Linked DNA regions of Homo sapiens: region 2 is linked to region 1. The links come from fine-mapping of genetic effects on plasma protein levels. Region 1 holds a variant in brackets. A gene starts in the other region. All regions are shown on their forward strands.

Region 1 (8,332 bases):
AGTTTTGCTCTTTAAAATTCTATACCTGAGTCATTTAGCTTCTTGACTATGAGTTTCTTGTTTTCTGTATATTTGGCGTGTTGCGAGCCATCATCGCTTCAAGTATAATGTCTGTCATGATATCTTTTTCTTCTCCTTCTGTGACTTGCCTAACACATATATTAAATGTGTGGATTTTTCCTAGATGCCCTTGAGGCTCTGTTGATTAATAGGTTCAGTCTTTGTGTGTGTGTGTGTGTGTGTGTGTGTGTGTGTGTGTGTGTGTGTGTGTTTCTGTCTGTTGGTCTGTCTGTCTGTCCTGTGATTTGTGTAGCTCCTATTGAATTATTTTCTAGGTCACCTTTCCTACCGTAATGTCTAAAGTGATGATAAGGCCATCCAGTGAGTTCTTCATTAGAGATGTACCTTTTCTCAGTTCTTTAATTTTCATTTGGCTCTCCGGTTCTTTTCTTTTCTCTTGCTATTCTGCTTTTGTTTCTCTCATGGTCAGCTTTTGCTGACATTTTCCTGAAACACAGTTCTCAGAGGTGCATTTTAAATGTTCTCACCAATGTCATCAATTCTATAATTTCTGGGCCTGTTTGTGTTGAGTGATTTTTTCTCCCAGTTATGTATCACAGTGAAAGCTTCTTGTGTCTCTATTAAATTTTTAAATAGAAGTAACGCAATAGGAATGCCATATAACTGAGCAACTTGTATTTGTCCCTTGCCTCTAAGGGGGGTTGAGTTTTTTTTTTCTTGTGGAATGCAGTTAATTTACTTGGAGATCATTTGGATCCTTTTAGACTGGCTTGGAAGAAGGGTTGTTGGAGTTTTTCTGGAGTCACCTTGATTCTAGGAATAAGATGATCCCAATCCCAAAATACAGCTTTCTTTGGTCTCTACTGAATGCCCAAAATGTAGTGAGGTGTTTCTCCTCTGAGTGGTCAGAATTCAAATATCCCCCAGTGCTATGTGAGCTCTGGCATCTCCATTGAGCTTACTGTTCCCCTGCAGTTGTTCTTTCCCAAGTAGCTTTTCTTTGTTGTTCTTTCTTTATGAAAACTCTCCCTGTGCATACGCAGCTTTGTATTTAGCCAAAGCCTTGAGGAGACTTCTGTGTGTATTCCTGGAGCTCCTTTCTTCCACAAATCCCTTCTCATTCTTAGCCAGCCTAGAACACATCAGCTGCCTGAGGCATCGCAGACTCCAGTCTCTCTCCTCAGTTAAGCAAGACTGCTGTGGTCAGCTGGGCTCCATCTGCTTGTCCTTCAATCCAACACTGTGTCCAGGAAGGAAGACAGGTTAATGATGAAGTTGATCTCCTTTGATTCCCTTTCTCAGTTCTCTCAAGCCTACCATATCTGTTGTCCAACCTGTGAAAACTGTTTTCTCATGTATTTGATAGTCCTTCATGGCAGAAAGGCTGGCATAGCCAGACATGGGTTTCTGTCCATCTTCCTGAATGTGTAACTCTTCAGCATCTCTATACTTCCTGACTCTCAGCTGCCTTCCTCCTTTTGCCCCTCATGGGCTGGCAACACATAGCTTTTCAGACACCTTGTTCTCAGAACCCAATGTGTTTATACAGGTTAGAGGAGAAAGTGATCGGAAGATCTCGAAGTCAATATAGATATCCTTCACTTGTTACCCAAGACAAACATGGCAAACACAACCTTCACTCCAGGGCTTGGAGATTAGAATGACAGAATTCCCTGGTTGAACTATTTCACTGGTCTTTAGTGGGCATTGTGGAATGGTGCTATTTCTAAGCACATGGTCATATGTTCTTCTGAGCTTTCTATTCATGAGACCTCACCACCTCCAAGTATCCTCCTACTTCTATCAACTATGAGAAAAGAGAGCTGGCCTGACATTTCTCTCCTCTCAGACCCTGTGCCCAAAGCAAGAAGCCTGAGACATTCTGTCCAACATTCTGGGTCTGAGAGAAATTGGGTCATAAGAAGTTAGCTGGAAGCATGGCTCTTCCAGGAGAAATTTAAGTGGGTGGCTGTTTCTCTTGGGAGAAAACTCAAAGACATACCCATTTGGGTAGTATTCTGTGGTTCTCTGATGCCAGTGTGGTGTCATAGAGGACCAAGACTGACATGTCCTTCCTGTAACAGTGGTGGAGAATGAGCCTCGATAACTCTGTCCATCACCATGGTAGCAGTCCTGGACTGTGGGGCTTTGCTCCGTTGGTGCTGAAATTCAAAGAGGAGAAAACAAACTGAGTAATTTCCAGAACACAGAAGCATGAGAAAAAAAATCCATGATAGAAACAGGACATCATCTCTGAAAATGACGACCATGCTCTGTTCTACATTAGTAGGCAGATGGACATGCCAATAACAAAGCTCAAAGATTCATAGCATTCTGGAACTTCAATGAGTTTTTAGAAAGATTTTCTTTAAAACCTGGGCACCAAAGGACAGATCAGAGTGCCTATCAGTCAAAATTGCACTCATGTGCCTGTTCTTTGGCAAAGATCTCTTTTGGGTGTTCCTGAGAACAAGGCAGGAGACCAGAGTGCCATGCATCAGGCGGTGCAGGCTGTAGGTGGTGGTTGTCAGTGGGGGCAGACATGAAACCGTCACACATTTCTCCAGAGCACTGATCCTCCAAAGCCAAAGCCTTAAGTTTCTGGAAGATGGGGCAGGAAGTGGTCCTCCATCTAGGACTTCCAGGCAAAGACACATTGTCTCTCAGAGAGGGGTACTGGCCAAAATTTTATTCCCTTGGAGGGACGGCGGGAAATCTTGGGCCCAGGATCCTGCATTGCAACAAAGTAGACATCCACTACTCTTCTTCACAAACAGCAACACAGATACGTGTTCCATGAGAAGGAGGGGCAAGAACACTAAGAAATCCCTTCCATCAAAGCCTAGGTGTGCAGCACCTGCCTAAGATTAAGGTAGACAGGGAGATAGAGCATTTGCTGGCTATGTACTGTTACCTAGACCCAGGAGGATATGGAACTAAGTAAAGTCATATCAGGTTTCTCAAGGATGACAGACTCAAAAACCACATTCCTCTGAAACTGTAAAGCTGAAGTTTGCAATGAGTACTGTCTACTTGAAGAAATACCAGGAAAGGCTCATGATGAGCTTGGTAAATCATCACAAATTTGGCAGGATGTTAGAATATCCATTTTCACTAGGACACTGAAATAATCTATTGAATAACCAGGGGAGTGGTAAATCCAGTGCCCTAGAAGGTCTGCACGCTTCCTAAAGACACCACCCTGTCACGGGGTGCCAAAAATCTCAGCCCTGGTTCCCCCAGAGAAGGCGCTGAGGCTTCCTTCCCATTGGCTGACCCTGAGTCCACATTCAGATTCCCGTGCAGCATGGAAGGCTTCTGTATCACTAAGATTTTGCAACTCTTTTTATCCCAACGTCCAAGGGTGTGGTTGTCTGGCCAGAGACTTCTTACCTTGTTCAGAAACAGCCGTGGACGTCGCAAGGACACTTGATTCTGTCACTGGACATTGTGTCAGGTTGCAGTACTCCCATCTGACATTGGGATCCATGGTATAACACCAAGGACTAATCTCAGCATCTGGATTCCTGCAGTAGTTCCTGGTCAGGCCACTGCAAATTACAAAACAATACAGTTCACCAGAGATGGGAGAAGATACAAGGGCACCAGACATCCTCTACATTTTGTTGTAACAAAGTGGTAAAAAGTGACTTTGAAATATTCTCACTAAAGGTCCTGTAACAATCACAAATCGTCCTCAACTTCTAAACAACTGTGAACATTTCAAAGACAGATTATCATTCTTATTGTAACACATCCAAACTCGTCTATACTCCATAAGAAAACCGAGAGAAAACATCAATGTGTACAAGAAAGGATCAGAATACCCTCCTTCCACCTTCTGCCAAATATGTTACTTTGGATTAACTGAGAGATTTTGAAGTGAGTCTTGTAGATTGTTTTATGCACGTACAAATGTTTCTCTGTCTGGCTATCTGTATGTCTTTCTATAGGAGTACCCAATCTATTCAGTATCTGGTTTGCTGATTTGTTGTTTACCTAAGGAATTGATCCACATGATCTACATTCATGAATTTATTCACATACAGTTTTTCTTGATATCTTCTTGTCAGCTTTCAGACCTGGAGTATGGTATAGCAATGGCTCCTCTCCCCTGTTACTTCAAATGGTGATGGTTGTACTCCCTCCTTGGTCTGTCATCTGTTCAGCCAGACTGTGGTCAATCACATGAATCTTTTCAAAGAACCAACTTTCTGTTTCATGGATTTACTCCTTTGTTGGTCTATTTTCTTGTTCACTGAATGTCATTGGTTTGGACTATTTCCATCCATCCCCTTTCCTTGTGTCTTATTTGCTTTTCCTTGCCTAGATATTTAAGCTGTGGTCTTAGATCAACTGTCAAAATGTTTGTTCATAGGAACCCCCTTTTTTTCTTCTTAGCTTTGAAATCAGACAATTTAACTATGATG[T/C]ACCCCAGTAAATCAGAGTTTTGCTCTTTAAAAATCTATACCTGAGTCATTGAGCTTCATGACTATGAATTTCTCATTTTCTGTATGTTTGGAAATTTGTCAGCCGTCATGGCTTCAAGTATAACTTCTGTCACATTATCTTTTTCCTCTCTTTCTGTGACTTGCCTAACACATATATTAAATGTGTGGATGTTTTCCTAGATGTCCTTGAGGCTCTGTTGATTAATTGGTTCAGTCATTGTGTGTATGTGTATTTGTGTCTGTCTGTCTGTCTTGTGGTTTGTCTAGCTTTAATTGAATCATTTTCTCGTTCACCTTTTCCTACCATAATATCTAAACTGGTTATAAGGCCATCCAGTGAATTCCTCATTACAGATATAACTTTTCTCAGTTTTTAAATTTCCATTTGGCTCTTCAATTCTTTTCTTTTCTGATATTATGCATTCATTTCTCTCATGGTCAGCTTTTGCTGACATTTTCCTGAAACACAGTTCTCAGAGGTGCATTTTAAATGTTCTTGCCAATGCCATAATTTCTATTATTTCTGGGCCTATTTGTGTTGAGTGATTTTTCTCCCAGTTATGGATCACAGTGAAAACTTCTTTTGTGTCTAGTAAATTTTTAAATGCAAGTTGCACTCTGGGGATGTCATATAACTGAGAAACTTGTATTCGTTCCTTACCTCTAAGGAGGGTTGAGTTTACTTTTTTCTGGAAGGCAGTTAATTTACTTGGAAATCATTTGGATCCTTTTAGACTGGCTTGGAAGAAGGGTTGCTGGAGTGTTTCTGGAGTCACCTTATTTCTAGGAATCCGAAGATCCTACTCCCAAATTATGGCTTTCTTTGACCTCTACTGAATGCCCAAGATGTTCAGTGAGGTGTCTCTCCTCTGAGTGGTCAGAACTCAAATATCCCCCAGTGCTATGTGAGCTCTAGCATCTCCATTGAGCTCACTGTTCCCTTGCAGTTGTTCTTTCCCCAGTAGCTTTTCTTTATTGTTCTTTCTTTGTGAAAACTCTCCTTGTGCATACGCAGCTTTGTATTTAGCCAAAGCCTTGAGAAGACTTCGGTGTGTATTCTTGGAGCTCCTTTCCTCCACAAATCCCCTCTCATTCTTAGCCAGCCTAGAATACGTCAGATGCCTGAGGCATCACAAACTCCAGTCTCTCTCCTCAGTTAAGCAAGACTGCTGTGGTCAGCTGGGCTCCATCTGCTTGCCCTTCAAGGGTCTCAAGGAAGGATGCCAGGGACATGATAAGGTTGATCTCCTTTGATTCCCTTTCTGAATTTTCTCAGGCCTGTCATGTCTGTTGTCCAACCTATGAAAACACTTTTCCTATGTATTTGATAGTCCTTCATGGCAGAAACGCTGACGTGGTCTGAACTGGGTTTCTGTCCATCTTCCTGCATGTGTAACTCTTCAGAATCTTTATACTTCCTGACTCTCAGCTGCCTTCCTACTTTTGCCCCTCATGTGCTGGCAACACATAGCTCTTCAGATACCTTGTTCTCAGAACCCAGGTACAGGTTAGAGGAGAAAGTGATTGGAAGATCTGGATGTCAACATAGATATCCTTTATTTGTTGCCCAAGATGAACATGGCTAATACAACCTTCACTTCAGGACTTGGAGATTAGAATGACAGAAATCCCTGGTTGAACTATTGCATTGGTCTTTAGTGGGCATTGTGGAATGGTGCTATTTCTAAGCACGTGGCCATGTGTCCTGAGCTTTCTATTCATGAGAACTCACCACCTTCAAATATCCTCCTGCTTCTGTCAACTATGAGAAAAGAGAGCTGGCCTGACATTTCTCTCCTTTCAGACACTGTGCCTGAAGAAAGAAGCCTGAGACATTCTACCCAACATTCCAGATCTGAGATAAATTTGTCATAAGAAGTTAGTTGGAAGCATGGCCCTTCCAAGAGAAATGTAAGGGGGCTGCTGTCTGTCTTTGAAGAAAACTCAAGGTTGTACCCATTTGGATAATATTCTGTTGTCCTCTGATGCCAGTGTGGTGTCATAGAGGACCAAGACTGACATGTCCTTCCTGTGACAGTGGTAGAGAATGAGCCTCGATAACTCTGTCCATCACCATGGTAGCAATCCTGGACCCCGGGGCTTTGCTCCGTTGGTGCTGAAATTCAAAGAGGAGAAATCAAGCTGAGTAATTTCTAGAACACAGAAGCATCAGAAGAAATCTGTGACTGAAACAGGATCATTGTCTCTGAGAAAGACTACCATGCTCTGTTCTGTACTAGCAGGCAGATGGACATACCAATAATAAAACCCAAAGATTCATAGCATTCTAGAACTTTAACGAGTTCTTAGAAAGATTTCCTTTAAAACACAGGCACCAAAGGAAAGATCAGAGTGCCTATCAGTCAAAATTGCACTCATGTGCATGCTCTTTAATATAGACATCTTCTGGGTGTTCCTGAGAATAAGGCAGGAAACTAGACTGCTATGCATCAGGCTGTGCAGGTTGTAGGTGGTGATTGACTGTCAGTGGGGACAGACATGAAACCGTCACACATTTCCCTAGACTGCTGATCCTCCAAAGCCAAAGCCTTCAGCTTCTTGAAGATGGGGCAGGAAGCGGTCCTGCATCTAGGACTCGTAGGCAAAGACAAATTGTCTCTCAGAGAGGGCTACTGGCCAAAATTTTATTCCCTTGGAGGGATGGCTGGTATCTTTGGCCCAGGATTCTGCATTGCAACAAAGTAGATATCCACTACTCTTCTTCTCAGAGACCAACACAGATATATGTTCCATGAGAAGGAGGGGCAAGAACACTGAGAGATCCCTCCCATCAAAGCCTAGTTGTGCAGGACTGGCTTAAGATGGAGATAGGCCAGAACGATGGAGCATTTGTTGGCTATGTACTGCTACCTGGACCCAGAAGTATATGGAACTAAGAAAAGTCATATTAGGTTTCTCAAGGATGACAGACTCAAAAACCGCATTCCTCCGAAACCGCAAAGCCAAAGATGCAATGAACACTGACTACTTGAAGAAATACCATGAAAGGCTTATCATGAGCTTGGTAAATCTTCACAAATTTGGCAAAATGTTAGAATATTCTTCTGGCTAAGACACTAAAATGATCCTTTGAATAACCAGGGGAGTGGTAAGTCCAGTGCCCTAGAGGGTCTGCACCCTTCCTATAGATACCACCCTTTCACAGGGTACCAAACATCACAGCTCTGGTTCTCCCAGAGAAGGCGCTGAGTGTTCCTTCCCAGTGGCTGACCCTGAGTCCACATTCTACTTGGAATTGTGTGAGCATGGAAGGCTTCTATATCACTAAGATTTTGCAACTCTTTTCATCCCAACGTCCTAGGGTGTGGTTGTCTGGCCATAGACTTCCTACCTTCTTCAGAAGAAGCCTCTGTGCTTGGATCTGGGACCACCGTGAGAGTTGCAAGGACACTTGATTCTGTCACCAGGCATTGTGTCAGGTTGCAGTACTCCCACCTGACACTGGGATCCATGGTGTAACACCAAGGGCGAATCTCAGCATCTGGATTCCTGCAGTAGTTCCTGGTCAGGCCACTGCAAATTTCAAAACAACACAGGTCACCAGAGATGGGAGAAGATTCAAGGGCACTTAGCGCCCTCTACATTTTGCTGTAACAAAGTGTAAAAAGAGACTTTGAAATATTTTCACTAAAGGTCCCATAATATGCACAAATGGTCCTCAACTTCTAAACAACTGCGAACATCTCAAAGACAAATTATCATTCATATTGTAACACATCCAAAGTCATCTGTGCTCCATAAGAAAATTGAGAGTAAACATCAATGTTTACTCTGTACATTGTGCAAGTTGCACTTGTACTTGTACAACTTCAATTGTACTTGTACAATTATACTCTGTA
Region 2 (8,299 bases), not on the chromosome of region 1:
ATTAGCAGTTAGGGCTGGGGTTGGGATCAGCATTAGGGGTTGGGACTGAGGTCAGAGTCAGGGGTATCAGGGGTGGGAGCTCACACGAAAGCCTGGAGGTGACAGTCCCCGTCAGCCTCCTGCAGTTCCACCTGGATGACCTTCCTCAGTAGCTTGTCTGAGAGTGGCTTTCGGTAGAGCTGAGTACAGCAGGCAGTGCTGGGTGGCAGTAGGAATGCTAGGGGCAACAGGGCCATGTGTTCAGAGGGATCCTGACCAAGAACCTCTCTGCCAGACAGCTGGAGGTTAGGTTGGATTTCCTGGGTCTTTTCAACTTCATCCCATTCACCCAGACCCCCAGCTTTCTATACCCCCAAGTACTCACCTGCTGTAGGGTCTGGGCTCAGGAGCAATGACAGCAGCAGGAGGCTGCAGAAGGTTGGGGGCCCCTTCATGTTGCTCAGCCTAGACTCTTCCTTCTCTCTCTCTCCTCCTCCCCTACCTTTTATCTGGGTGCCTTTTACCTGGGGCACTAGGTGAGTCAGAGGCAGTTGGAGATGTACTGTGTAACCTGTGACACTCCTGGGCCCTAATTCTCGGCCTGTTGCCACAGACTCCTTCCTCATCTAGGATAGCCATTTCCCATGTGCTCCTAAGCTCTGGGCAGTGAAGCTGGGGGAAGGATTAGTGTGTGATGTAGGGACTGATGGAACAGTGAGTAAGGGCAGTCAAGCATCCACAGCAGCATCTAATGATAGACATTCACACTCAAATACGCATAGCCACACATTCAAAGTCACTCCTCAATCACTTGGTCAACCTCACAAAGTCATACTCATGATCAGACAACCGTAGACAAAATTATATAGCCCCGGTTATACTCAAAGTCCCTCTCCCACCCAATTGTGTTTTCACAGTCATCCAATCACAAGCAAATTCACACTAGCACACACAGATTCTGACAGGGGAGTTGTGGGTGGGGTGGGAGCAGAGGGCAGGCAAGCACCAACTTGCCTTCACCTTCTCCTCCCCACTTCCTGGCTTGGCCTGCCTGTCTTATCAGAAGAAATGGATGGGAATGGGTCCCTAGAGCAGGCCCTTCTGGCTGAGGAGGGTTCTTGGCTGAGGCCAGCCCCATTCAGAGAAGCTGGGGGAAGGCCCTTTATGGTAATATTAAGGGTGTTTTGGAGATGCTGAGGTGGGGCAGCTTTCCCCAGGATGATGAGACAGGGAGGAAAGGTGGGGTAGATAAGGAGGGAAGATAAAAGCTCTTTGGTGCTAGGTTACTGTTGTCAAAACAGGTAAAAGGCCCAGTGAATCTTACCTTCCTGTTTTTGTCTAGTCCTGTTCCAGGAATGCCAACCTCTTGCCAGCAGGGGCCTAGGGTCTCCAGATCCAGTCCCTGACTTGTTGAAGACATTGGACTCAAGCACTCAATTACATCTTTGTTTTACTCAAATTCCAGCCTCCTTCCTGGGCCTGGAGGAACATCCCCTCTCCCTACCCGGGTTCAGTCACACCCTCATGTCCAACTGCTATACCCCCTGCATCCCACCCTCCAGCTATAGCCGCTTCTCTCCTAATCCCATACCCAGCTGTCACTCCGTTCTTTACCCCCTCCCTGCAATGCAAAGCTCCTATTCATCTTTATCCAGTCCTTTCCAGGAAGCTGGGAGCTGCCTAGGGTGGGGGTATGCTGCCAAGTTCAGTGCCCCTGGCTCCTTTAAGAATTTCCCACTCCTGGTCCAGGGATCTCAATCTGCAAGTCCTGCTCTATATTTGAAACATAAACCAAGTCATAACACAGTAATCCAGCCCTTATCTTGTTGCAGTCGTCTGCTGTAGGGTCAGCCACTCTCTATGGAGTAGGCTTTCTCTTGGGATAGGGCTTAGGCCTTTCTCTTGTGTCCCAAGGCTTGTTGGGTGTAGCCACTGAGGAAATCCCAAGGAAATCTCCCAGGTTCCTCGGGCTTGTCATAGACCTTCTTCATCACTTGGCTGTGCGCTACATACTTTCTGGTCTTCCCTGGGCTTGTCGGTCCAGAAGTCTTCGGAAGGCAGAAAACAAATGCTTTTGGGTGTGCACCCATCTCTCCCCTTTAAGACCAAGTCTTCTCCCCAGCCACAATCTGCTGTAGCTTTGGCCCCAGCCAGAAACTGGGCCATCTCTTTCTTTAACTTAATCTTGTGGTGCCCTTTCTGGTGCTGGGTCCAGTCCCTAACTGAAGGCAGGCCCACATAGCAGTCCCTGATTCTCACCACTTGAGGAGTTAGTGGGTCCCAGGCTGATTGGGTGACAGAAGGGGGCGGCAAAGAGCAGTGGCCCTTGGACTCTCCTAGGGAGGGAGCAAGAACTTCTAGGTAGGCTGATGCCAAGGATCTCTAAACTTGGGATCAGACTGGAGGAGCCAAAAGTTGGGGTATGAACTGTAGGAAAGGTCGCCAACCCAAGTCGCTCCTCTGTGGCAGGCAGCTTCTAGGAATCTCCCCCTCTTACCATTTACAGCCTGCATCCTACACCTCTGCTTAAAATGTTTTAGATATACTCCCAGCAGAGAAGATTCTTCAGACAGCTGGCAAAGTCCTCGCTCCGAGGAAGGGAGTAACAGGCAGGATTATTTAGTTCTCTTCATATAGGCGACTCACAGTATGGGTTTTTGGGGGTTGGGATTGGGGGAGACAGCCATTGATAGTAACAGGAGGCCTGACACTGATGAGGGGCTTTGACGTGGAAGGGCACCCTTCCAGGGAGGGACGCCCTGTCAGTACGGAACAGAGCCCGTGTGGGGAGGGGCGCTCGGCTCGAATGGCGACAGCGGCGGCAGAGTCAGGAGGTCAGTACGGTGGGCTTCGGTTTAAATCTTTAATGCACTGGCTGGCTGGGCAGCGGCGGTGGGGCTGCGGCGGGGGAAGCCACGACCCGAGCGCTGGGGAGTAGGACCCAGGCCGCTGGACAGACAGCTCATCAGGCCTCGCAGAGGCTCCAGCTTCTGCTCCCCGGGGTGCGCCGAGCTGTGGGGCGACCCGACACTGGCATGAGGCGGGGCGGGAGCTACCGGATTCCCCCCGATGGGTCCTCAGAGACTGAGTCCCGTCCATGCCCGGGGCGGGTCCGCGGTATCGCAGCCTCCTCACCTCCGCTCCCTCCGCCACATGCGAAGCCAGGGGAAAAAGTAGAAACAGCCCCAGTAGATCCTGCAGAGAGAGGGCAGAGCCGGGCGGGGCGGGGCGGGGCGGGGAGGAGCTGACCCTACAGACTCCGCCCCGCGGTGCCTCGCCGTCGAGGAAGGCTCCGCCCCGCCTCTAAAAGCGGCTCCCTTCGCGCCCACGCCCCTGGGAGGCTCGCCCTGCCCACCCCTCGCCCCCGCAGAACTCCACCCTCCCCCACCCCGGAGCCGCCTGGTTCCTCCTCCGCAGAACCCGCCTCCACTCACTCCTCCTCCGCCTCCAGCGCCACCTCGTATCTCCTCATTCCCGACATGTCCTGGGCTCCGAACGTCTCCTGGGGAGCGGCATGATTGAATCAGGGATTCCCTAGCCCCAGGTCCCCTTCTCCGTCATTCTCAGGACGAGGCTGCCCAGTTCTCAGGTAATCTGAGGCTGATGCCCCCGAGAAGCCTCAGTTGCCACCACGGGACAGGGTGGGCTTGGAGATTTGGGAGGCACTGGAAGTTAAGGGGTGAGGAGGCCGGTCATCTCCGGGGCCTGGGGCATTTAGGGGGCCAGGGCGAGAGGTTTGGCGGTCATGGGGCTGGGAGATTTGGGGCCCTGGGTGAGGATTTTCAGGGGCTGGGGTCACCTGGAGGGGGGGCTGAGAGGGGTCAGCGCAGCCTAAACTCCCGCCCTCCCTGGCTCCACCCCGGAAACGGACCGTTACTATTACGTCACAGGGATGCCGTTGCGCACTAGGTTTGCCTGTCCCCCGGAAGGGGTGGGGTGTTCATGTCTCCCAGAGGAGGCGGAGTCGAAACGTCATCTTACGGGGTGAGGCCAGGGGCGGGGTCGGTTGATTAAGATGCGGGCAAAGGACCCTCTTTTATAGGTGTCAGGTCAGGTTTTGGAGCTACACCTTGGGGGGCCGAGGCTTCCGCAGCAGGCAGCAAGAAAAGAGAGTTGGGACTAAGTCCAGTACTGTTTTCTTAATCCCCACGTCTCCTCTACCCCTCCCTGGGCTTCTGCCCTGCCGAGTGCCTCTCTTGCCTGCCTTCCTCCCCTTGTATGACCCTGGGCCGAGGAGGAATAGGTCCTCAGATAGAGTCCAGTCTAGAAAAGGCCAGGCTACGGAAATACCTAGTTGAGTGGCCTCGGCTAAGTCACTGAATGGCCGGAGGGTCATTGCCCTTCCTCTCTGGTCTGAGACCTATCTTCTTGTGATTTTTTTTTTTTTTTTTTGCTACATTCATTCAATCAACAAATATTTGCTGAATGACCACCTGTGTGTCAGGCACTGTGCTGGGCATGGGGATGTAGTAGTAAAGAAGACAGGTGGCCGGGCACGGTGGCTCACGCCTTTAATCCCAGCACTTTGGGAGGCCGAGGTGGGTGGATCACGAGTTCAGGAGTTCAAGACCAGCCTGGCCAAGATGGTGAAACCCCGTCTCTACTAAAAATACAAAAGTTAGCCGGGCGTGGTGGCAGGCGCCTGTAATCCCAGCTACTCGGGAGGCTGAGGCAGAGAATTGCTTGAAACTGGGAGGCGGAGGTTGCTGTGAGCTGAGATCGCACCACTGCACTCCAGCCTGGGTGACAGAGTGAGACTCCGTCTCAAACAAAACAAAACAAAACAACCAACAAACAAGACAGGCACCTTGTCTGCCCTCTGAGAGGTAGGGGTAGAGCTGGGAGGATCAAAAGAGAATAGTGAGATTCTTACTATAAATGGAGCAGGCTGGCTGGAAGAAGTAGAAGGTGTCAAGAAAGGGCAATCAACCCAGTGTGGGAGGTTGGAAATAGCTGCCCCAGAGCTCTGACATCCCAGTCAAGGCCCAGTACTGAGCTGTAGTCGGTTTGAGTAAGGGGAAAGACAGTTTTGGGGCTGGGCTGACTGTATAGGAGGGAGTGACCAGAAATAAGTGGGGTGAAAGTTTCCTCTGGTTGAAATGTGAGGAATGGATACCCCTCTTCTCTCCCTCATCCCACCCTCTTTCTCCCTCTCATTCTTGTCTTCCCTTGTCTGAGCCACATACAGAGAGCAGACAGAGAGATCCATGGGTGCTAGGTGGTTTTATTGGAAGCACTGCAGTCTGGGAGTTCAGAAGCTATGCTTTCACCACGTTCACCCTTTCACTCACATTCACACTCATGTTGACACTCCAGGCCTGGCTGGGTCAGGTCTGGTGCCGAGGAACTAGAGGCCTGGTCTTCCCTTCTGGTCCTTGGTTCCCCAGGCCAGGGCTGTCTCTGGCACTGTCATGGGCTAACTGCTGTGGCTCTTGCTCTGGGAAAGGAAGGAGAGGAAGGGCCATGGGCTGTAATCTTAGACAGGGCTCAGAGGGGGCAGACAGGACTGGGGAGGGCCAGGCTTTCCTTGGCAGAGGTCTTCCGCAGTCTCCAGTTTGTGCAATCCATCCAGGGCTGGTCTAGAGGCTGCCTTTCAGTGTGGTGAATCTGGAGTCAGAGAGAATGGAGCCATAGAACTCATCTTCCTGAAAGGCCCTGGTGTGAGGGGCAGATGCTGGGGACCAGATCTGGGAACCTGTTTTAGGGGCTTCCTTGTGGGAGGGATTGGGCAAGGAGAAGTGAAGGAAGTAACATGGTGAATGGAGACCTGGATGATGGAGGAAGTGATTGGGAGGGGAGGAGACTGGACATTCTCCACCCCGACTCATAGGACAAAGTGCCCTGCAGCCATCCCTGAAGAGGAGGTAGCAGAAGGCACCAAAAATGTTCCCAGGAATTGGGTGTTGATTTGCTAAGAGGCAGAGTCCCCAGAGTTGTTGGTATCTCCCAGAGCTAGGGAGTGAGTATTAGCTTTAGGGCTTAAGATGGGAAGGCCATAGCCCTGACTGGAACTTGGGATATCTGTGTCCAGAGCTTTAGTGTTGCTCTCTACTCCACCCACATGCACTGTTCTCTTCTTCCTCTGGGAAGTCCAGGCTAGAGAGACAGAGCCTATAAAGAGAAGAGCAGCCAGAGGCTCCAGGACCCATCCAGGCACTGATACATACAGGAACAGCTGGGGTACAGGCACATCTACATCACACAGGTGCACACAAAGGGCATAGGCATACCCACACCACACAGGCACACACATAGACTGCAAAGGAATACACACAATGCACAGGTATACCCATGTCACACAGGACGTAAAGTCATCACAAGGGCACACCCATTTGGCATATGTACAGTCTCAGGTGCATATCAGTCTCAGAACCTGGATGTTGATATTGTGAAAGGAGAATAAATCTCAGAACCCCCAAATCATTCAACCAAGGGGAAAGTCAAGCTGGGAATTGTGTCAGGCAAACCTGCCTCTTGTTTTATTCCTAAAAGAGATAGCTACAAAGAAAAAGCTACATACCTCCCTCACAATTTGTCCACAGGGAAATTCCTTATGGGCCTCAAGATCTTTACCTTAAAACAGTTGTGCTGAATTTCACCCTGGCAATGTAAACTGATAGCTTATCTTCACAGGTGCAGGACAATAGACAGAACTCAAAGTCATCCCTCTGCTCACCTGAGACAAATGTGTATCTGATTGCTGCTTCTGCCCTATTGTTTATGCAAAAATGCAGATCCACTGAGCCAGACTAAGGCATCAGTGTGACTATTCCTTTACTCCCCACTCCATGTAAATTGTGTATTCAGTGAAAGGCTGATCAAAGACCCCAAAAAATGCAGCCTTTTGTCTCTTATCTACCTATGACCTGGAAGCCCCCACTTCGAGTTGTCCCGCCTTTCCAGACTGAACCAGTGTACACCTTACACGTATTGATTGATGTCTCATGTCTCCCCAAAATGTATAAAACCAAGCTGTGCACCGACCACCTTTAGCATGTGTTGTCAGAACCTCCTGAGGCTGTATCATGTCATGAGTGTGTGCTCAACCTTGGCAAAATAAACTTTCTAAATTGATTGAGACCCATCTCAGATACTTTTGGATTCACAACATGAACTCAGCTTCCTTTACAGACCCCTGAGACCTGCACATTGATCCCTGCCATGCCCCTCCGTACCGTTTAACCCCTGCCCCATTTTACTCACTCATGGCAAGAAAACCAATATGCTGAGAAGAGGAGTGTTGCCACACACACAAGAGGCCATGGAGGATGAGCAGAGATGGACAAATGAGGAGAGTCCCTGGGAGCAGCAGGTGTGCATGGGTGTGCAGGAGTCCTTCTGCTTGTGTGGAGTCTGTGAGACTGTGTGTGAGGTTGGATGGGGAGAGCAAGCAGGAGAGGGATCATGATCATGAGGGCGAGGGAGTCCTTGGAAGACTGAGGGTCCATGAGTGTGTGTGGATCTGTAGGAGGCTGTGGCTGTCTCCTATTTATGGCCCCCTAAAACTTTCATTTTCTACGTTCAGAAACTTCCTTCCCTAATGGTGTGTAATAAAGAATTTGACTGCCTTTTGTCCCTGGCTCCTGAGAGGGAGACTAAACCTTTGGAATTTCCCAAGTAATAGGAGTGTCTTTATTACTCATGAGCCCCTTGGAACACACCTGGGTTTATGCTAAGAGATGAGATGGCTCAGGTTAGAGGTTGGTCACAGTAAAGACCAACCATGTGATTAGAGAGTTGAGACTTTGGGCCAGGCTGACCTCTGGGGAGGAAGGGGGCGCTGGAGATTGAATTCAGGTATGTGGCCAATAATTCAATTATGCTGATGTAAGGAAATCTCAAAAAAAACTCTGGACACCAAAGCTCATAAAACTTTCTGGTTGATGAACACATTGATGTCCCAGGAGGCTGATGCACCTTATGTCTCCACAAGGAGAAACCACTGAGAGAAGCTCTGCATTTGAGACCCTCCTAGACTTCATCCTGTGTGTCTTTTCATTTGGCTGTTTCTGATTTATACCCTTAATAAACTAATTAAACACAGCACTTTCCTGAGTTCTGTGAGTCACTCTAGCAAATTATCAAAACTGACGGGTTTTGGGAACTTCTCAGACTTGTAGCCAGTTGGCCAGAAATGTGGGTGGCTTGGAGACCCTACTTGTGGCTGGTATCTAAACTGGGGACAGTCTTGTTGGGGACCTTTCCCTTAAACCTGTGGAATCTGGTGCTAACTCTACGTGGCTAGTGTCAGAAGTGAATTGCAGTCCATGAGTTGGTAGCAGAATACTTTCCCACTGGATAGCTCCCCATCGCCTCTCTC

Which allele goes with the higher level. Positions count from the first base shown, and alleles are read on the strand shown. Strength reflects both the effect of a copy and how common the allele is.
For the plasma level of the protein whose gene starts at base 458 in region 2, allele T in region 1 goes with a lower level than allele C (weak association).

The links. PIP is the posterior inclusion probability: the model's chance that the variant is causal. Protein levels are from antibody-based Olink assays in UK Biobank. Linkage for the fine-mapping came from a reference panel and not from the study's own genotypes, which makes the PIPs less certain.
Region 2: it holds the start of CCL27, and the variant in region 1 is fine-mapped to the plasma level of the CCL27 protein (UK Biobank, PIP 0.91).

What each region holds. Positions count from the first base shown.
Region 1 is chr6:160,587,530-160,595,861 of GRCh38, forward strand. It overlaps LPA (lipoprotein(a)), which reads right to left. Exons shown (of 39, transcript NM_005577.4): 21 at 7,825-8,006; 22 at 6,429-6,588; 23 at 3,415-3,572; 24 at 2,024-2,183. Among named protein-coding and RNA genes, the nearest start is that of LPA, 73 kb to the right of the region's middle. The variant T/C (reference allele first, on the strand shown) is at 4,452.
Region 2 is chr9:34,662,200-34,670,498 of GRCh38, forward strand. It overlaps CCL27 (C-C motif chemokine ligand 27), which reads right to left and starts at 458. Exons shown (of 3, transcript NM_006664.4): 1 at 365-458; 2 at 85-217. The coding sequence starts at 434. It overlaps LOC730098, which reads right to left and starts at 3,846. Exons shown (of 3, transcript NM_001320038.2): 1 at 3,414-3,846; 2 at 3,115-3,174; 3 at 1,964-2,991. The coding sequence starts at 3,460. The coding sequence ends at 2,835. It overlaps LOC124902146 (a long non-coding RNA gene), which reads right to left and starts at 6,294. Exons shown (of 2, transcript XR_007061467.1): 1 at 6,041-6,294; 2 at 5,188-5,586. It also overlaps a transcript of PHF24 not described here. RefSeq lists a silencer at 3,171-3,420.